2 separate regions of the Homo sapiens genome follow, and region 2 is linked to region 1. Evidence: fine-mapped expression QTL. A gene starts in region 1. The other region holds a variant in brackets. All regions are shown on one strand. Distances are from middle to middle.

Region 1 (9,400 bases):
TTAAGCAAGGCACGGTGGCTCACGCCTGTAATCCCAGCACTTTGGGAGGCTGAGGCAGGCAGAACACAAAGTCATGAGTTCGAGACCAGCCTGGCCAATATGGTGAAACCCCGTCTCTACTAAAAATATAAAAATTAGCTGGGCGTGGTCGCATGTGCCTGTAATCCCAGCTACTTGGGAGGCTGAGGCAGAAGAATTGCTTGCATCCGGGAGGCGGAGGTTGCAGTGAGCCGAGATCACACCACCGCACTCCAGCCTAGGTGGCAGGGCAAGACTCTGTCTCAAAACAAAAACAAAAACAAAACAAAAAATGTATCCTTGGAGGTCTGGCACAGTGGCTCATGCCTGTAATCCAAGCGCTTTGGGAAGGTGAGGGGAGGATCCCTTGAGTCCAGGAGTTCGAGACTAGCCTCAGCAACATAGCAAAATGCAGTCTCTAAACGTACATATATATATATGTATTTTTTTTTTTTGATACAGGATCCCTCTTGTCACTCAGGCTGGAGTGCAGTGGCACGATCACAGCTCGCCACAGCCTTGACCTCCCAGGCTCGGGTGATCCTCCTACCTCAGCCTCCCAAGTAGCTGGGATTTCAGGCGCCTGCCACCACACCTGGCTAATTTTTCTATTTTTTGTAGAGATGGGTTTTTGCCATGTTGCCCAGGCTACTCTCGAATTCCTGGGCTCAAGCAATCCAACTGCCTCAGCCTCCCAAAGTGCTAGGATTACAGATGTGAGCCACCACACCCAGCCTAAAAAAAAATTTTTATATTTAAAAGAAAAAAAAGAAGCTGGGCACAGTGGCTCACCGTCAATCCCAGCACTTTGGGAGGTCAAGGTGGGCAGATCGCTTGAGCCCAGGAATTCAAGACCAAGCCTAAGCAACTGACAAAACTCCATCTCTACAAAAGATGCAAAAAATTAATCAGGTGTGGTGGGGTGCACTTGTAGTCCCAGCTACTCAGGACGCTGAGATGTGAGGATTGCTTGAGCCCAGGAGGTCAAGGCTGCAATGAGTCGTAATTGTGTCACTGCCAGTTACACGGGTAAATGTAGCCAACTATCAGCTCCTTTCATGACTTTATTATATCTTTTTTCAGAAAAGGCAAACCAAGTCTCCCTTCCTACTTCTGGTTACTGCCTTACAGCTCTCTGGGTCCTCACAGCCACGCTTCACTAAACCATGGTCTACATTTTGTCTCCTACATTTTCTGCTTTCTATTCAACCGTTCACTTCTTCCTCCAAATCCTTATACCTTGGGATTATCCAAAGTTCTATGCCTGGCCTTCATCTGTTTCTACCTGTAGTTTTTTTTTTTTTTTTTAGTATTTATTGTTCATTCTTGGGTGTTTCTCGGAGAGGGGGATGTGGCAGGGTCACAGGATAATAGTGGAGAGAAGGTCAGCAGATAAACATGTGAACAAAGGTCTCTGGTTTTCCTAGGCAGAGGTCCCTGCGGCCTTCCGCAGTGTTTGTGTCCCTGGGTACTTGAGATTAGGGAGTGGTGATGACTCTTAACGAGCATGCTGCCTTCAAGTATCTGTTTAACAAAGCACATCTTGCACCACCCTTAATCCATTTAACCCTGAGTTGACACAGCACACGTTTCAGAGAGCACGGGGTTGGGGGTAAGGTTATAGATTAACAGCATCCCAAAGCTGAAGAATTTTTCTTAGTACAGAACAAAATGGAGTCTCCTATGTCTACTTCTTTCTACACAGACACAGTAACAATCTGATCTCTCTTTCTTTTCCCCACATTTCCCCCTTTTCTTTTCGACAAAACCGCCATCGTCATCATGGCCCATTCTCGATGGTCGCTGTCTCTTCGGTGCTGTTGGGTACACCTGCAGAAAGGCTGTCACTTCACACTTGGAAGACTGCACAGCGGCCAGGCAGAGGCGCTCCTCACTTCCCAGACGGGGCGGCCGGGCAGAGGCACTCCTCACTTCCCAGACAGGGTGGCCGGGCAGAGGAGCTCCTCACTTAACAGACTGGGTGGCCGGGCAGAGGCGCTCCTCACATCCCAGACGATGGGAGGCCGGACAGAGGCGCTCCTCCCCTCCCAGACGGGGCGGCCGTGCAGAGGCGCTCCTCACTTCCTAGATGGGACAGCCAGGCAGAGGTGCTCCTCAACTCCCAGACGAAGGGCGGCCGGGCAGAGGCGCTCCTCACATCCCAGACAATGGGCGGCCGGGCAGAGGCGCTCCTCACTTCCCAGACAGGGTGGCGGCCGGGCAGAGGCGCTCCTCACATCCCAGACGGGGTGGCGGCCAGGCAGAGGCGCTCCCCACTTCCCAGACGGGGCGGCTGGGCAGAGGCGCTCCCCACTTCCCAGACGGGGCAGCCGGGCAGAGGCGCTCCCCACTTCCCAGACAGGGCGGCCGGGCAGAGGCGCTCCCCACTTCCCAGACGGGGCAGCCGGGCAGAGGCGCTCCCCACTTCCCAGATGGGGTGGCGGCCGGGCAGAGGCGCTCCTCACATCCCAGACAGGGCGGCCAGGTGCTCCCCACTTCCCAGATGGGGTGGCCGGGCAGAGGTGCTCCTCACCTCCCAGATAATGGGCAGCCCACTTCCCAGATGGGGTGGCAGCCGGGCAAAGGCACTCCTCACATCCCAGATGGCGCGGCCGGGCAGAGGCGCTCCTCACTTCCCAGACGGGGCGGCCAGGCAGAGGCGCTCCTCACTTCCTAGACAGGGCGGCCAGGCAGAGACGCTCCTCACATCCCAGACAGGGTGATGGCCGGGCAGAGGTGCTCCTCACTTCCCAGACGGGGTGGCGGCCGGGCAGAGGCCCTCCTCATATCCCAGACGGGGCGGCCAGGCAGAGGCGCTCCTCACATCCCAGACGATGGGCGGCCAGGCAGAGACGCTCCTCACTTCCTAGACGGGGTGGCGGCCGGGCAGAGGCTGTACTCTTAGCACTTTGGGAGGCCAAGGCAGGCGGCTGGGAGGTGGAAGTTGTAGTGAGCCAAGATCACACCACTGCACTCCAGCCTGGGCAACACTGAGCACTGAGTGAGCAAGACTCCATCTGCAATCCCAGCACCTCGGGAGGCTGAGGCAGGCAGATCACTCGAGGTCAGGAGCTGGAGACCAGCCCAGCCAACACGGCGAAACCCCGTCTCCACCAAAAATACGAAAACCAGTCAGGCATGGCGGCGTGTGCCTGCAATCCCAGGCACTCGGCAGGCCGTGGCAGGAGAATCACGGGAGCCCCAGGCAGGGAGGTTGCAGCGAGCCGAGATCACGGCAGTACAGTCCAGCCTCGGCAACAGAGGGAGACCGTGGAAAGAGAGAAGAGACAAGAGAGGGAGACGGAGAGGGCTACCTGTAGTTCTTAAACAATTGTTGAGGGTCAGGACAAAAGCATTTGTATTTTTAACAAGTTTCTCCAGTTATTCAAATTAATCCCAGATAGAGAATCACAGTTCATTCTGGGCAATTTCATCTACAACCCTGACATCTTCAACCACAGTCTGTACAAGATGTTATATTTAATGTTGTATCTCAGGCTCAGCACAGATCCCTTTTCTGAGCTCCGGACTGAACCTGGTTCCCAAATCTGGCTGTCCATCAGAACCACCTGAAGAGCTTTTTAAACCTACAGATTGCTACTGCCAAGCCTCTGTCCACCTCCACTCTAATTCAGTAGATCCAAAGTAGGAAACCAAAACAAAGTAAAAAATAAGCCTGACAACATGGTAGGTGTTCACTGAATGGGTGCTAGAATTATTAAGACATCGCAGTGATGATAACTCATGTCCTTGCCTAGTCTGACTGATCAGATGGGTTTTGGGAATCATGAACCAGACTAGCCCACCTGACAGAACTCTTTCCTCCCTCAGCAAACAGCATCATCAGTCATTCAAGACAAAAATCTACCAGCTATCTTAGATGCCTCTCACATCTCACTAGCTGACCTTCATTCTTTTTTTTTAACTTTATCTTTTTTTTTCAGGCAGATAAGACTTTCTTTTTTTAGTCTGTTTTTATTATATTGTAATTTTCTTGACTGATTATCACCACCGAATCTCCTGTATGTAGTACAATTCTAGCCATGTAGTAGGAACTCATTAAGACCTATGCTGAATGAATCCACAAATAATTTATTACTAAACATTTTAATTTCAAACGCTAAAAAAAAAAAAAAAAAAAAGCAGTTTTCTCTGCAATTCCTGTCACTGCTCCAAGTTTCTTACAAGAAGGAGGTTAAGGTTTGGGTAGAAGGGGGCCAAAGATGGAAACTGAGGAGCAAGTGTAAGATGCAGAAGAGCTGGAAGACAAAGGGTTGTAGTCAACGAGTGAGCTCTTGGAGTTTAAAGTTTCACAGACAGTACTTACTGTAACTTTAAAATTTCAGACACAGCACTTACTGTAATTTTCTTGTCTCTAAAGCAGGCTTTGAACCTGGATAGATTTGGATAGAACCCCGACTTTGTCATTTGCTAACTGCAAGGCTTTGAATAAACGATTTAATTTCTCTGCGTCTGTTTCCTCATCTGTGAAATGAGGATAACAATACTGTCCACCTTACAACAATGTTAATAATCGGAAAAAGGACATAGGTAACGTGCCTGGCCTGTAGCTCACCAAATATTAGGTGGTGTTGCGATTAAGATGCCTTAGAACAATTCAGTTCTCCGACTCTCTAGACCTGAGGAACCTTCCCAGGGAACCCCTAACTTTCCCAGACCACACTGTCAGATATTCTATAGGCCCCGCCCCTCCAGAGCCTCCGAGTCCTCCCTAGCCCACCCGAGCCCGGTCCCCAGCATTACCTGACCCATAGCGCACGTCGTGTGAGTGCAGTCGGACGTTGTGGCGCGTATTGAGTAGCTTCACCACGGAGCCGCAAGTAACGACACCCAGGCTGGACGCTCCCACAGCGCTCCACAAACCCCCCAACAACAGCAGAGGTACTACAGCCATCCTAACTGTATCGCGGAGCCCCAAATCTTCGAAGAAAACTCGGCCCCTCCCCGGAACCGGAAGCTAATGGCGAAACCACGGAGAGAAGGAAGTGAAGAAGCCCGAGTCTGATCTTTATGGTTTATTTGACTAGAGCGGCCTGAGAAACCGGCTGAGCCTGGTTACTTACGATACTCTCGCTCTGTTCCAGGGGCTCAGTGACAGCTGCCTTCCTGAGCCGCTTCGGTTACCTTTCGCACCCACGAGACGAAAGCTTCCGAGAGCGGGAGAGAGAACAAGAAATGGCCCGCCCACTCCCGGTGACAGGGAGCCGGAAATGACGTAGCACGTTGACGCAGCAGCGGCGGCGGTGGCGGCGGAGGGGCCGTGCGGTGGGTCCGTACTATCTTTTCCCAGTCTCGGTTCGACGACTCCATTTTCCTCGGTGGGGGCTTAGCGCACTGGAGGAGCGGCGGGCTTCAGACAGGTAAAGTTCCGACTGGAGAGCGTGTTTCTCGCAGGAGTCAGGTGGGGAACCGGGCTCCTAGGGCCTGGTCACGTAAGGGAAGAGGCAGTGGGGAGCCGTATGCGGGAAGAAGGGGGAGCCTGGCCTTCCCTGCTCTATGGGGGGAAGGGGGAGGAAAGCGCTGTAGTTGCTCAGAGTCCGAAAGCTTTTCCCAGCCCAGTGACACCCGGAACCCGTGAATCGGGTGGCACGTTGAATCAACAGGCTTCCTGGCATCCCGTCCTTCTCTCCGCAGGTTTTTAAAACTGGGCCACGCAAAAGGATTGGGGATGGAAGGGACCTGGGGCTTCTGAGCCAGGATCAGGTGATCGAGTTGTTTGTTCTGGGGATATGAATCCTGTGGAGCTTTCAGCAGCTCGGCCATCAGGCTAGAGGGCGATGCCAAATTCCAGCTCTTTACATATTGCTGAATAATACAAATAGAACTTTTTGTAGATGGTTGCATCCTTCATCCCTTTCTAAAGATCGAAGGTCTTGTAGAAGTCCTAAAGCCCGTCCATTCTCTATAGATTCATTTCCTCAAACGTTTGCCAGAGGCCTATCATGAACATCAAAATTAGTTATTAAGTCAAAACTCCATCTTCTAGTTTCTACCTTTCTCCTCAGGCACTCCTTTGAACCAGCTGGAGAAGTTAATTTTCCTGGGTTGTTGCAAGAACTGATACTTATTTCAGAGGGCTAAGATCTCTGAAAATACTTCCGTGGAAATTCACTGTAATATCAAAAGTAACAAGGGTGTATGAAGCTACATCATTAATGAGCATTAGGGAGTGTAAACAATATTGAATTTGATTAATTTCTTCGGAAAAATGTCTGGTTCCACTGTTTATCTGGAAGTTACCAGTTTGTAAGTCTTCAGTGTTTTGATTACAGAAACATAACTGCTCTTCCATCAGCTGTGAATTTAGAGCCCTTTTTTACGAGTAATGTCCCTTTCACCAGTACAAGTACATTTTTATTCACTTGGCTTGTGTGGCTGCTAGATTGGATTAGCATAGCCTTGCAACTCTAGGAGGTTTTAACTTCATCAGGAGATTAATTACATCAGAAAGTGGTACCGTCTGGAGAGGCTTAGTCAAATTTTACAGTTCTTCCTCTGAAAGCCTACCTAGTGTGGTGGAAACATGATCTTTGTAGGCAAATACGTTTGCCCTGATTCTATATTCTTGACCTTAATAAATGGCACTACCATCAGTCCTGCCTGTAATCCTTGTCTTCCTTCCTGTCCACTATTTCCCAATAAAATCAGTCACCAAATCCTGTCTCTCCCTGAAACTGTTCCCATCAGCATACAAATTATGTTCTGGTATCCTTCACATCCCTCTCCAATTACCATGCCAATTTTTTAAATTTCCATTCATAGATTTCTACCTGTACCAACTCAGCTTTCTCAACTTTCATTCACTCTTCATTTTATACCAATCTGGCTTCTCTTCTGCCCACTCCATTTTTTTTTTTTTTTTTGTGGAGACAGGGTCTTGCTCTGTTGCCCAGGTTGGAGTGCAGTGGCCCCATCATAGCTCACTGCCACCTGGAACTCCTGAGCTCAAGCAGTCCTCCTGAGGCAGCTTCTAGTAATCAAGTGCCACCACATCTACTTTGCCCACTCCATTGAAGTTGCTCTTATCAAGGTCACCAGTGACTTCTATGTTGCCAAATCCAATGGATACTTTGTTCTCATATTCCTCTGTCTCTGCAATATTCAACATAGTTACTCCTGCCTCCAAACTTTCATCTTGGCTTTATTGACATTTCACTCTTGGATTTTCTCCATTTCTCCGGCTGTTCCTTCTGAGTCTCATTTGCTAGCAACTTTTGCTCTCTATCTAATGTCTAAATGCTGGGGCTGGTCGCAGTGGCTCATGCCTATAATCCCAGCACTTTGGGAGGTCGAGGTGGGCAGATCACTTGAGGTCAGGAGTTCACAACCAGCCTGGCCAGCATGGTGAAACCCCATCTCTACTAAAAATACAAAAACTAGCCGGGCGTGGCGACACGCCTGTAATCCCAGCTACTTGGGAGGCTGAGGCAGGAGAATCACTTGAACCAGGGAGGCAGAGGTGCAGTGAGCAGAGATCATGCCACTGCACTCCAGCATGGGCAACAGAACAAAACTCCGTCTCAAAATATATGTATATCTACATATGTTGGAATTCTCACAGGAATCCCGAGCCTTCTACATGCTTCCCTTTAGGTAACCCAGCCCCATGGCTTTAATTACCACCTGAAAGTTGGCAACTCCAAAGTTTAAATCTCTAGTCCAGCCCTCTCCTCTATGTTGCAGAATCACGCGTCAAAAATGCCTGTTTAATTATCTCCATTTGGATATTTCTTAGGCACCCAAAGCTAACATAACCAAAAGAAAGTTTTGGTTTTCTCATCATTGCAAACCTTATCCTCCCGTTTCACTGAGTGGTGCTCCTATCCGCAGGGTTACCAAAGATAGACCTCTGAGAATCATCTTTGTTCTTCTCCTTTACTACTCCTCTTCCCCAGTCTTTCAGTAAGTCTTGTCACTTCCACTTGCAGAATGTTTTTGTAATCTGTCTTCTATTCTCCATCTTCACTTTTACCACCTTATTCCAAGCCACCACCATCTTTTGCCTGGGCTACCACAACAGTATCTTCAGTTTTCCCTGGTTTCCACTCAGATCTTCCTCCAGTTCATTTTCCATGTAACAGAATTGGATCAGGGCAGATCATGTCATTTCCCTACTTAAAACTCTCCAGTGACTTTCCATGGCCTTTACGCCCTGCTTGAGCATACCTCTCCCTCATAGGCTGCTGCCTTCACCATGCTCTAGTGCCATCAGCCTCAGGACATCACCTATTATATACCATGTTCTTGCCCACTTTCTCTACTGGAACCTCTCCTCCTACTTCTACAGGTCATATCCTACCTATTGACATCTCAGCCTAAGTAAACTCACTTTAGATGAGATGAGAATATGCATTTCCTTCTTCGCTTTTAGAGCAAGGTTTATTTTATTTGTTGCCAATATGTCTCCTGCACCAGAATACGGGCATCCTAGGGGCATGGACCTAGTCTTGTACGTGCCTGGCATGTGGTAGGCACTCATTAAATACATATTTATGCCAGGCATGGTGGTTCACGCCTATAATCCCAACACTTTGGGAGGCTGAGGCAGGCGGATCACCTGAGGTCAGGAGCTCGAGCCCAGGCTGGCCAACATGGTGAAACCCCGTCTCTGTTAAAGATACAAAGAAAAAATTAGCTGGACGTGGTGGTGGGTGCCTGTAATCCCAGCTACTTGGGAGGCTGAGGCAGGAGAATTGCTTGAACCTGGGAGGCGGAGGTTGCAGTGAGCTGAGATCGTGCCACTACACTCCAAGCCTGGGCAATGGAGCGAGACTCTGTCTCAAAAAAACGTATATGTATATGTATATGTATTTGTCCTAGCTACCTGGGAGGCTGAGGTGAGATTATGGCTTGAGCCCAGGAGGTGGAGGCTGCAGTGAGATGTAATCACACCACTGCACTCCAGTCTGGGTGACAGAGCAGGACCCCATCTCAGAAAATAATAAGTTTTTGTTGGATTAGCAAGTAGATTAAGTTCAGTTCTACATTTAAAACCCTGCAATGGCTTCCCAGTGCCTAGATCCTTATGACTTCTCCAACCCTTATGAACCATTCTTCCTCTCCTGGGCCTTCTCTGTACCTGCCACAGTACACGTGTTGTGCTAGAAGCACACGTCTCTGACATCACTCCCCAAACCATCTCCAAAGAAGCCAGCTCCTCTGCTGAACTAATTCCTCCTTACTCTTAAGGTCTTTGTTTAAAGTCACTTCCTCAAAACCAGGTTAGGTTGTCTTATTACAGGATCCCATGCTATTCTTATCATCAATTCTCTAAATCAGGGGTCACAAACTAAGGCCTGTGAGCCAAATAAGGTCACCCCCATTCATTTACATGTTATGTATGCTGTGCTACAGTGGCAGA
Region 2 (9,400 bases), 190 kb after region 1:
CTTCTCCACTGCCCGGCCCCTCAGTCACCGGCGCAGCTGTGGGGACTACCCGGAGCCGCTCCTGCGCCTGCGCAGCGTGTAGCGCCTGGGCCCTTTCGGGCCGCACGCGCCTGCGCAGCCCCTGCCGGGGGCGTCTTCCTCAGTGCCTGATGGTCTGGACCCCTGGGTCTCTAGTGGACATGGGAGCTGGCCTTGAAGAATTCTGAGGCTTAGAGAATTTGGCGGCTGCCTCAGGGTACGCCTCTGGAGTACCGTGCCTAGGTTACTAAACCCTTGGATCGCGCTTCCCCAAGGAGCCACAGACTTACTGGCTCTTCCAGAATTCTGCATCCTACTTGCACTTAAAGGCCTGAATTCAGGTGCTCTGAGGTGACCACTGATGATAAATTTGGGTCTTTTTTTTTTTTTTTCTGAGTCGAAGTTTCGCTCTTGTTGTCCAGGTTGGAGTGCAATGGCGTGATCTCGGCTCAAACAACCTCCGCCTCCCGGGTTCAAGCGATTCTCCTGCCTCAGCCTCCCGAGTAGCTGGGATTACAGGCATGCACCACCACGCCCAGCTAATTTTGTATTTTTAGTAGAGACGGGGTTTTATCATGTTGGTCAGGCTGGTCTCGAACTCCCGACCTCAGGTGATCCACCCACCTCAGCCTTCTAAAGCGCTGGGATTACAAGCATGAGCCACCGCGCCCAGCCTGGGTCTTTTTTTTTTTTTTTTTTTTTTGAGACGGAGTTTTGCTCTTGTTGCCCAGGCTGGAGTGCAGTGGCGCGATCTCAGCTCACTGCAACCTCCGCCTCCCGGGTTCAAACGATTCTCCTGCCTCAGCCTCCTGACTAGCTGGGATTACAGGCTTGCACCACCACGCCTGGCTAACTTTTGTATTTTTAGTAGAGACGGGGTTTCACCATGTTGGCCAGGCTGGTCTCGAACTCCTGACCTCAGATGATTCGCCCGCCCCGGCCTCCCAAAGTGCTGGGATTACAGGCCTGAGTCACCATGCCTGGTAAAATTTGGGTCTCTTTCAAGATGATCGTGTCTAGAATGTATCGGGGGTAATTATGTAAAGGCAGCTTTGCCATCCTAGAATACGCTACTAGCTAGGAGGTGCAATGAAGTCCTGGGGACCTTGTCAAGGAGGTGACCTCGCCTAGAATGCACTGGGGACACCGCTAAGTTCAGTATGTTTATCAAGCACATGCTGTTTATTGGACAGAAATGTTCTAGGCATCGCGTGTATGCTATTGAGGAATTCGCAGGCAAATAGTCCCCTGCTTTCCAGCTCTCACTGTGAGCCTGGCCCTTTTTCAAACTGGTAAAAGAAAACCACTAAAGTCCAGTGAGGCCCAACTGTCAGTCCCTAGACTACTGTGCTGCTTTGGCATAGCCTGACAAGAGACTAAGCTCAATCGAGTCCTGAGAATTCAACAAAACAGACTTGAAAGCAGCAGGCAAGAGGAGGTACAGGACTAAACTCTCTCCTCATCACCATGGCTCTTTTTTCTCTCTCAACTCCAGCGCTGGTCTCCTCTCTTCAGAGTTTGGACACATAAGGCCCAAGATACAACGTAAGGGGGAAAAAGAGAAGAAAAAAAGACAAGTTGAGTGCTCAATGAGGAATGTTAAAAAAATTTAAATAGGCCAGGTGCAGTGGCTCACGCCTGTAATCCCAGCACTTTGGGAGGCCGAGGCGGGCGGATCATGAGGTCAGGAGATCGAGACCATCCTGGCTAACACGGTGAAACCCCGTCTCACTAAAAATACAAAAAATTAGCCGGGCGTGGTGGCGGGCGCCTGTAGTCCCAGCTACTCAGGAGGCTGAGGCAAGAGAATGGCGTGAACCCGGGAGGCGGAGCTTGCAGTGAGCCGAGATCAAGCCACTGCATTCCAGCCTGGGCGACAGAGCGAGACTCCGTCTCAAAAGAAAAAAAAATTAAAAATAAAGCTGGGCATAGTGACTTATGCTTGTAATCCCAACATTTTGGGAGGCCAGGTTGGGAGGATTGCTTGAGCCCAGGAGTTAGAGACCAGCCTGGGCAACATAGGGAGACTCATCTCTACAAAAAATCTAAAAAATAGTGGCCAGGCAAGATAGCTCATGCCTGTAAACCCAGCACTTTGGGAGGTTAAGGCGGGCGGATCACTTGAAGCCAGGAATTCGAGACCAGCCTGGCCAACACGGTGAAACCCTGTCTCTACTGAAAAAATACAAAAATTATCTGGGCATGGTGGCATGCACCTGTAGTCCCAGCTACTCAGGAGGCTGAGGCAGGAAAATCGCTTGAACCCAGGAACGGAGGTTACAATGAGCCGAGATCGCACCACTGCACTCCAGCCTGGATAACAGAGTGAGACTCCATCTCAATTAAAAAAATAAATAGGGCCGGGCGCGGTGGCTCAGGCCTGTAATCCCAGCACTTTGGGAGGTCGAGGTGGGCGGATCACGAGGTCAGGAAATCGAGACCATCCTGGCTAACACGGTGAAACCTCATCTCTACTAAAAATATAAAAAATTAGCCGGGCATGGTGGCGGGCCCCTGCAGTCCCAGCTACTTGGGAGGCTGAGGCGGGAGAATGGCGTGAAGCCCGGAGGCAGAGCTTGCAGTGAGCCAAGACGGTGCCACTGCACTCCAGCCTGGGGACAGAGCGAGACTCCATCTCAAAAAAAAAAAATACAAAAATACAAAAAAATTGGCTGGGCGTGGTGGTGGGCGCCTGTAGTCCCAGCTACACGGGAGGCCGAGGCAGGAGAATGGCATGAACTGGGAAGCGGAGCTTGCAGTGAGCCGAGATCGCGCCACTGCACTCCAGCCTTGGCGACAGAGCGAGACTCTGTCTCAAAAAAAAAAGGAAAAAAAGAAAAAATAAATAAATAGGCCAGGCACAGTGGGTCACACCTGTAATCCCAGCACTTTGGGAAGCCGAGGTGGGCAGATCATAAGGTCAGGAGATCGAGACCATTCTGGCTAACACGGTGAAACCCCATCTCTACTAAAAATACAAAAAATTAGCCGGGCATGGTGGCGGGTGCCTGTAGTCCCAGCTACTTGGGGGGCTGAGGTGGGACAATCAATTGAACCCGGGAGGTGGAGGTTGTAGTGAGCCAAGATTGCGCCACTGCAATCCAGCCTGGGTGACAGAGCAAGGCTCCATCTCAAAAAGAAAAATAAATAAATAAATAAGGGTTGGGCCTGGTGGCTCACGCCTGTAATCTCAGCACTTTGGGAGGCCAAGGCGGGTGGATCACGAGGTCAGGAGATCGAGACCATCCTGGCTAACACGGTGAAACCCCGTCTCTACTAAAAATACAAAAAATTAGCTGGGCATGGTGGCGGGCGCCTGTAGTCCCAGGTACACAGGAGGCTGAGGCAGGAGAACGGCGTGAACCCAGGAGGTGGAGGTTGCAGTGAGCCGAGACCATGCCACTGCACTCCAGCCTGGGCGACAGAGCAAGACTCCATCTCAAAAAAAAAAAAAAAAATTAGCTGGATGTGGTGGTGCACACCTGTGGTCCCACCTACTTGGGAGGCTGAGGTGGGAGAATCACTTGAACCCAGGAGGCAGAGGTTGCAGTGAGCCTAGACTACACTACACCGCAGCCTAAGGAACCGAGTGAGACTGTGTCTCAAAAAAATTTTTTTAATTAAAAAAAAAATGTTCAGGCCAGGTACGGTGACTCACGCCTGTAATGTCATCACTTTGGGAGGTGGAGTAGGCGGAGTTTGAGACCAAGCTGGGCCACATGGTGAAAACCCGTCTGTACAAAAAAATTACCAAAAAATTAGCCGGGTGTGGTGGCCCGCATCTGTAGTCCCAGCTACTTGGGAGGCTGAAGAGCGAGGATTGCTTGGGTCTGGGAGGCGGAGGTTGCAGTGAGATTCAACCATTGCACTCCAGCCTAGGGGAGCCAGACTCCATCTCAGTAAGAATAAAATTTTCCTCTTAAAAAAGAAAAGAAAATCCTCTATTAACCCCACAGCCCTCTCCTGCTCAATATTGGTCCTCAATATCCAAGGGTTCAGCATCTAGGAATTCAACCATCCGAAGAACAAAAATATCTGGGGAAAGGCCAAACGTGGTGTCTCATGCCTGTAAACTCAGCACTTGGGGAGGCCAAGGCAGAGGACCATTTGAGGCCAGGAGTTCGTGACCAGCCTGGGCAACGTAGTGAGACTCTGTCTCTGCAAAAGATTTAAAAATTAGCGCTGGGCGTGGTGGCTGACGCCTGTAATCCCAGCACTTTGGGAGGCCTAGGTGGGTAGATCACCTAAGGTCAGGAGTTCGAGACCAGCCTGACCAACATGGAGAAACCCCATCTCTACTAAAAATACCAAATTAGCCGGGCATGGTGGAACATGCCTGTGATCCCAGCTACTCGGGAGGCTGAGGCAGGAAAATCGCTTGAACCCCAGAGGCACAGGTTGCAGTGAGCCGAGATAGTGCCATTGCACTCCAGCCTGAACGACAGAGACTCCGTCTCAAAAGAAAAAAAAAAGAAAAAGAAAAAATCTAAAACTTCCGTGACCCCAAGTTACAAGGTGTAACTTTATCTTCCTTACTAAAATAGTGTAGTGGGCC[G/A]TGCGTGGTGGTTCATGCCTATAGTCCCAGCACTTTGGGAGGCTGAGGCAGGCGGATCACGAGGTCAGGAGTTCGAGGCCAGTTTGGCCAACATGGAGAAACCCCATCTCTACTAAAAATACAAAAAATTAGCCGGGCATTGTGGCGGAAGCCTGTAATCCCACCTACTCCGGAGGCTAAGGCAGGACTATTGCTTGAATCTGGGAAGTGGAGGTTGCAGTGAGCCGAGATCGTGCCACTGCACTGCAGCCTGGGCGACAGAGAAGGACTCTATCTCAAACATAAATAAATAAATTAATTAAATAAAGAAAAACAAGGCCGGGCGCGGTGGCTCACTCCTGTAATCCCAGCGCTTTGGGAGGCCGATGTGGGCAGATCACGAGGTCAGGAGATCGAGACCATTCTGGCTAACATGGTGAAACCCCGTCTCTACTAAAAATACAAAAAATGAGCCGGGCGCCATGGCGGGCGCCTATAGTCCCAGCTACTCCGGAGGCTGAGGCCGGAGAATGGTGTGAACCCGGGAGGCGGAGCTTGCAGTGAGCCGAGATAGCGCCACTGTACTCCGGCCTGGGCGAAAGAGCGAGACTCCGCCTCAAAAAAAAAAAAAAGAAAAGAAAAGAAAGAAAGAAAACAAAATAGTGTAGTGAAGATGAAGGAGAGAGAAGCAGATGGAGCCTGCGCATGTTGGCTCACATCTGAAATCCCAACACTTTGGAAGGCTGAGGTGGGTGACTTGAACCCTAGAGCGGTGTCTGGCACATAGCAAGTACTCAATAGATTTTTGTTCAGGAGCGAATAAATGACATCTTTCTCTGGGTTGGCTCTCCCCTTCTGGTATCAACATGACTGCAGCAGCTCCAGATATTATGTCTTCTTACATCCAGCTCCAGTGGGAAAGAAGCAAAATTCTCCTTGTACGTTTTATCTCCCTGGGTTATGTGCCCATCTCTAAAACAATCATCATGGGCTAGAGAATGTTATACGCTGATTGAGTTGGTTCCGAGTTGTGTGCTCCTTGCCTGGGGTGAGCCTCATCCAACCACATGGTCTGAGTTTGCAGTAGGGGTGTTTCTATGGATAACTATATTGTATATAATGAATTAATGATTGGCAGGGGAAAAATCCACTATTCTGCCCTTGGTAAGAAATTCAAGTAGGGGCCCGGGCACGGTGGCTCACGCCTGTAATCGCAGCACTTTGGGAGGCTGAGGAAGGTGGATCACGAGGTCAGGAATTCAAGACCAGCCTGGCCAAGGTGGTGAAAGTGTGTCTCTACTAAAAATAAAAAAATTAGCCGGTGTGGTGGTGGCTACCTGTAATCCCAGCTACTTGGGAGGCTGAGGCAGGAGAATCGCTTGAACCAGGGAGGCGGAGGTTGCAGTGAGCCAAGATCGGGCCACTGCACTCTAGCCTGGGCGACAGAGCAAGACTGTCTCAAAGAAAGAAAAAAAGAAATTCAAGTAGGGAAATGGCTCAGAAGACCCGCAGTGGTTCAAATATAGGAATATATGTTGTTGTCATATAGTCTCCAGCAGGGGGCGCCACCTTCCCCTCTCCCCTGGGAGCCAAGAGTCTAGACTGGGCCACCAGCCCATACCCCTAGTCCTGGCAGCACTGATTCCCCACCAGAACTGAGCTCATGTTAAGTGGGGGATGACCCGGCCGGGCGCGGTGGCTTACGCCTATAATCCCAGCACTTTGGGAGGCCGAGGCGGGAGGATCACGAGGTTAGGAGATCGAGACCATCCTGGCTAACATGGTGAAATCTCGTCTCCACTAAAAATACAAAAAATTAGCCGGGCGTGGTGGCGGGCACCTGTAGTCCCAGCTACTGGGGAGGCTGAGGCAGGAGAATGGCGAGAACCCGGGAAGCGGAGCTTGCAGTGAGCCGAGATTGCGCCACTGCACTCCAGCCTGGGAGACAGCGAGACTCCGTCTCAAAAAAAAAAAAAAAAAGTGGGGGATGACCCAAGAAAGCACTGTAATTGACACTTAGCGATTTTCTACTCTTCGGACCCGGGGCCATGGAGCCTTGAGTAGAGTTGTTTTTTTTAAATCAGCATATCAACTTATTTTCTCTTCTACCCCAATTCCTTCCCTGCTATTCTCTACACTCCAGGAACTCACCAGCAGGGAGCAGGCCGCAGCTAATTTTGGTACCACTTAAGGGTTGCCCATTCTGGCCCCCCTTCTACTCTCTCACCCTCAAATCTTTGTATCTGGAGTGTTTTCTTCCAAGAAGCTGCAACACCCAAGGTTGGTAACTCTCATAACCAACCCACACAAGCGCCCACCTCCTCTTTAGGAAGTGGCCAAATTTGGCATTTTTTTCATTACAGCCTGCCATTCCTAGATGTTTTCTACATTAAAGAAGAAGAAAAAAAATCACTGTTTTCTCCTTAACTTCAAGCTACCACTCTCTCCTCTTTCCCTATAAGGGAAGAGAAAACAAAAAGTTGAAATGTAAAAATTCCCCTCCTCACCAGGCGCAGTGGCTCACGCCTGTAATCCCAGCACTTTGGGAGGCCGAGGAGGGCGGATCACCTGAGATTGGGAGTTCGAGACCAGCCTGACCAACATGGAGAAACCCCGTCTCTACTAAAAATACAAAAAATTAGCCAGGCGTGGTGGCGCATGCCTGTAATCCCAACTACTCAGGAGGCTAAGGCAGGAGAATCACTTAGAACCCAGGAGGCAGAGGTTGCAGTGAGCCGAGGTCATGCCATTGCACTCCAACCTGGCCAACAAGAGTGAAACTCTGTCTCAAAAAAAAATTCCCCCTCCTCCCATTATTTAAGCTATTGTCCTATTGTCATCACTCTCTTCTCTGCCCCATAAAGCTGTGAAGCCCTTTGCCTCACTCTTGATAGCATGAGGGGCCAGCGGGCAGGGATTGCGATTTGAATTTCTGAACTGTTTTTCCTTCCACTCTGGGTACTTGCTCAGGCATTGGAGTCTCCTCACCCTTGGCCATATGAGTTTCTTTTTTTTTTTCTTTTTAAGACAGAGTCTTGCTCTGTCGCCCGGGCTGGAGTGCAGTGGTGCGATCTCGGCTCACTGCAAGCCCCGCTTCCTGGGTTCACGCCATTCTCCTGCCTCAGCCTCCCAAGTAGCTGGGACTACAAGTGCCTGACACCACGCCCGGCTTTTTTGTATTTTTAGTAGAGACAGAGTTTCACCGTGTTAGCCAGGATGGTCTCGATCTCCTGACCTTGTGATCCGCCCACCTCGGCCTCCCGAAGTGCTGGGATTAGAGGCTTGAGCCACCGCGCCCGGCCGGCCACATGAGTTTCTTTAGAATCCTTTGGTCAACTGGGACCTTGATTTTGAAACAGTTTAGTCTCGGGTATTTTTGTTCTGTTTGTTCTGTTTGTAGGTTCTGTCTGTTTGCCTATTTTCTTCTGTCTGTCGGTTTTTGTTGTTTTCATCATTGTGGTTCTAGAAACTTCTCGTGTGCAGTGTCTGACCAATTTTGAACAGGTTCTTTCTATAAAAATCAAAAATTGTAAAAAAATGTTCCGCCAGGCATGGCAGCTCACACCTGTAATCCCAACGCTTTGGGAGGCCAAGGTGGGCAAATCACAAGGTTAGGAGTTTGAGACAAGCCTGGCCAATATGGTGAAACCCCGTCTGTACTAAAACTACAAAAATTAGCCGGGCTTGGTGGGGTGCGCCTGTAATCCCACCTACTCAGGAGGCTGAGGCAGAAGAATTGCTTGAACCCAGGAGGTGGAGGTTGCAGTGAGCTGAGATCGCACCGCTGCACTCCAGCCTGGGCGACAGAGGGAGACTCCATCTCAAAACAAAACAAAACAAAACAAAAAAATGTTCCAAGGCTAGGGGCAGTAACTCACACCTGTAATCTCAGCACTTTGGGAGGTCAAAGCAGATGGCTTACTTGAGCCCAGGAGTTCAAGACCAGCCTGGGCCAAGCCAGGCATGGTGGCTCACACCTGTAAGCCCAGCACTTTGGGAGGCCGAGGTGGGTGGATCACCTGAGGTCAGGAGTTCGAGACCAGCCTGGCCAACATGGTGAAACCCCATCTCTACTAAAAATACAAAAAATTAGCCGGGCGTGGTGGCAGAAGACTGTAACCCCACCTACTTGGGAGCCTGAGGCAGGAAAATAGCTTGAACCCGGGAGGCAGAGGTTGCAGTGAGCCAAGATCATGCCATTGCACTCCAGCCTGGGAGTCTCAAACGAACAAACAAACAAACAAAAGACCAACCTGGGCAACATGGTGACAGCCTGTCTCTATAAAAAATACAGAAATTAGGCTAGGTGCAGTGACTCATCCCTGTAATCCCAGCACTTTGGGACGCCAAGGCGGGCAGATCACCGGGTCAGGAGTTTGAGACCAGCCTAGCCAACATGGCGAAACCCTGTCTCTACTAAAAATACAAAAATTAGCCAGTGTGGTGGCGGGCACCTGTAATCCCAGCTACTCGGGAGGCTGAGCCAGGAGAATCACTTGAACCAGGGAGGTGGAGGTTGCAGTGAGCTGAGATCGCACCACTGCACTCCAGCCTGGGCAATGAGAAAGACTCCATCTCAAAAAAAAAAAAAAAACCAAAAACAGAAATTAGCTGGGCGTGGTCAGGCACATCTGTAGTCCCAGCTACCTGGGAGGCTAAAATGGGGGAATCACCTGAGCCCAGGAGGTGGAGGTTGCAGTGCGCCAAAATTAAACCACTACACTCCAGCTCAGACAACAGAGTGAGACTGTGGCTCAAAAAAATTTTTTTTTAATTAAAAAAAGCAACGTGGCCTGGCGCGGTGGCTCACGCCTGCAATCCTAGCACTTTGGGAGGCCAAGGCGGGTG

Direction of the effects. Alleles are on the strand shown, and positions count from the first base shown. SD is a standard deviation of normalised expression in the study named.
In carriers of allele A in region 2, the expression in unexposed skin of the gene that starts at base 4,963 in region 1 tends to be lower than with G alone (moderate effect, 0.62 SD a copy in GTEx).

Evidence for each region.
Region 2: its variant is fine-mapped to the expression of SDF2 in unexposed skin (GTEx, PIP 0.95).

The regions. Positions count from the first base shown.
Region 1 is chr17:28,656,944-28,666,343 of GRCh38, forward strand. SDF2 (stromal cell derived factor 2) reads right to left here and starts at 4,963. Exons shown (of 3, transcript NM_006923.4): 1 at 4,783-4,963. The coding sequence starts at 4,933. SUPT6H (SPT6 homolog, histone chaperone and transcription elongation factor) reads left to right here and starts at 5,262. Exons shown (of 37, transcript NM_003170.5): 1 at 5,262-5,399. RefSeq lists enhancers at 4,650-5,849, 5,211-5,280, 5,378-6,052.
Region 2 is chr17:28,842,744-28,852,143 of GRCh38, forward strand. FAM222B (family with sequence similarity 222 member B) reads right to left here and starts at 47. Exons shown (of 3, transcript NM_001077498.3): 1 at 1-47. RefSeq lists an enhancer at 1-140 and silencers at 1-15, 6,068-6,117. The variant G/A (reference allele first, on the strand shown) is at 4,574.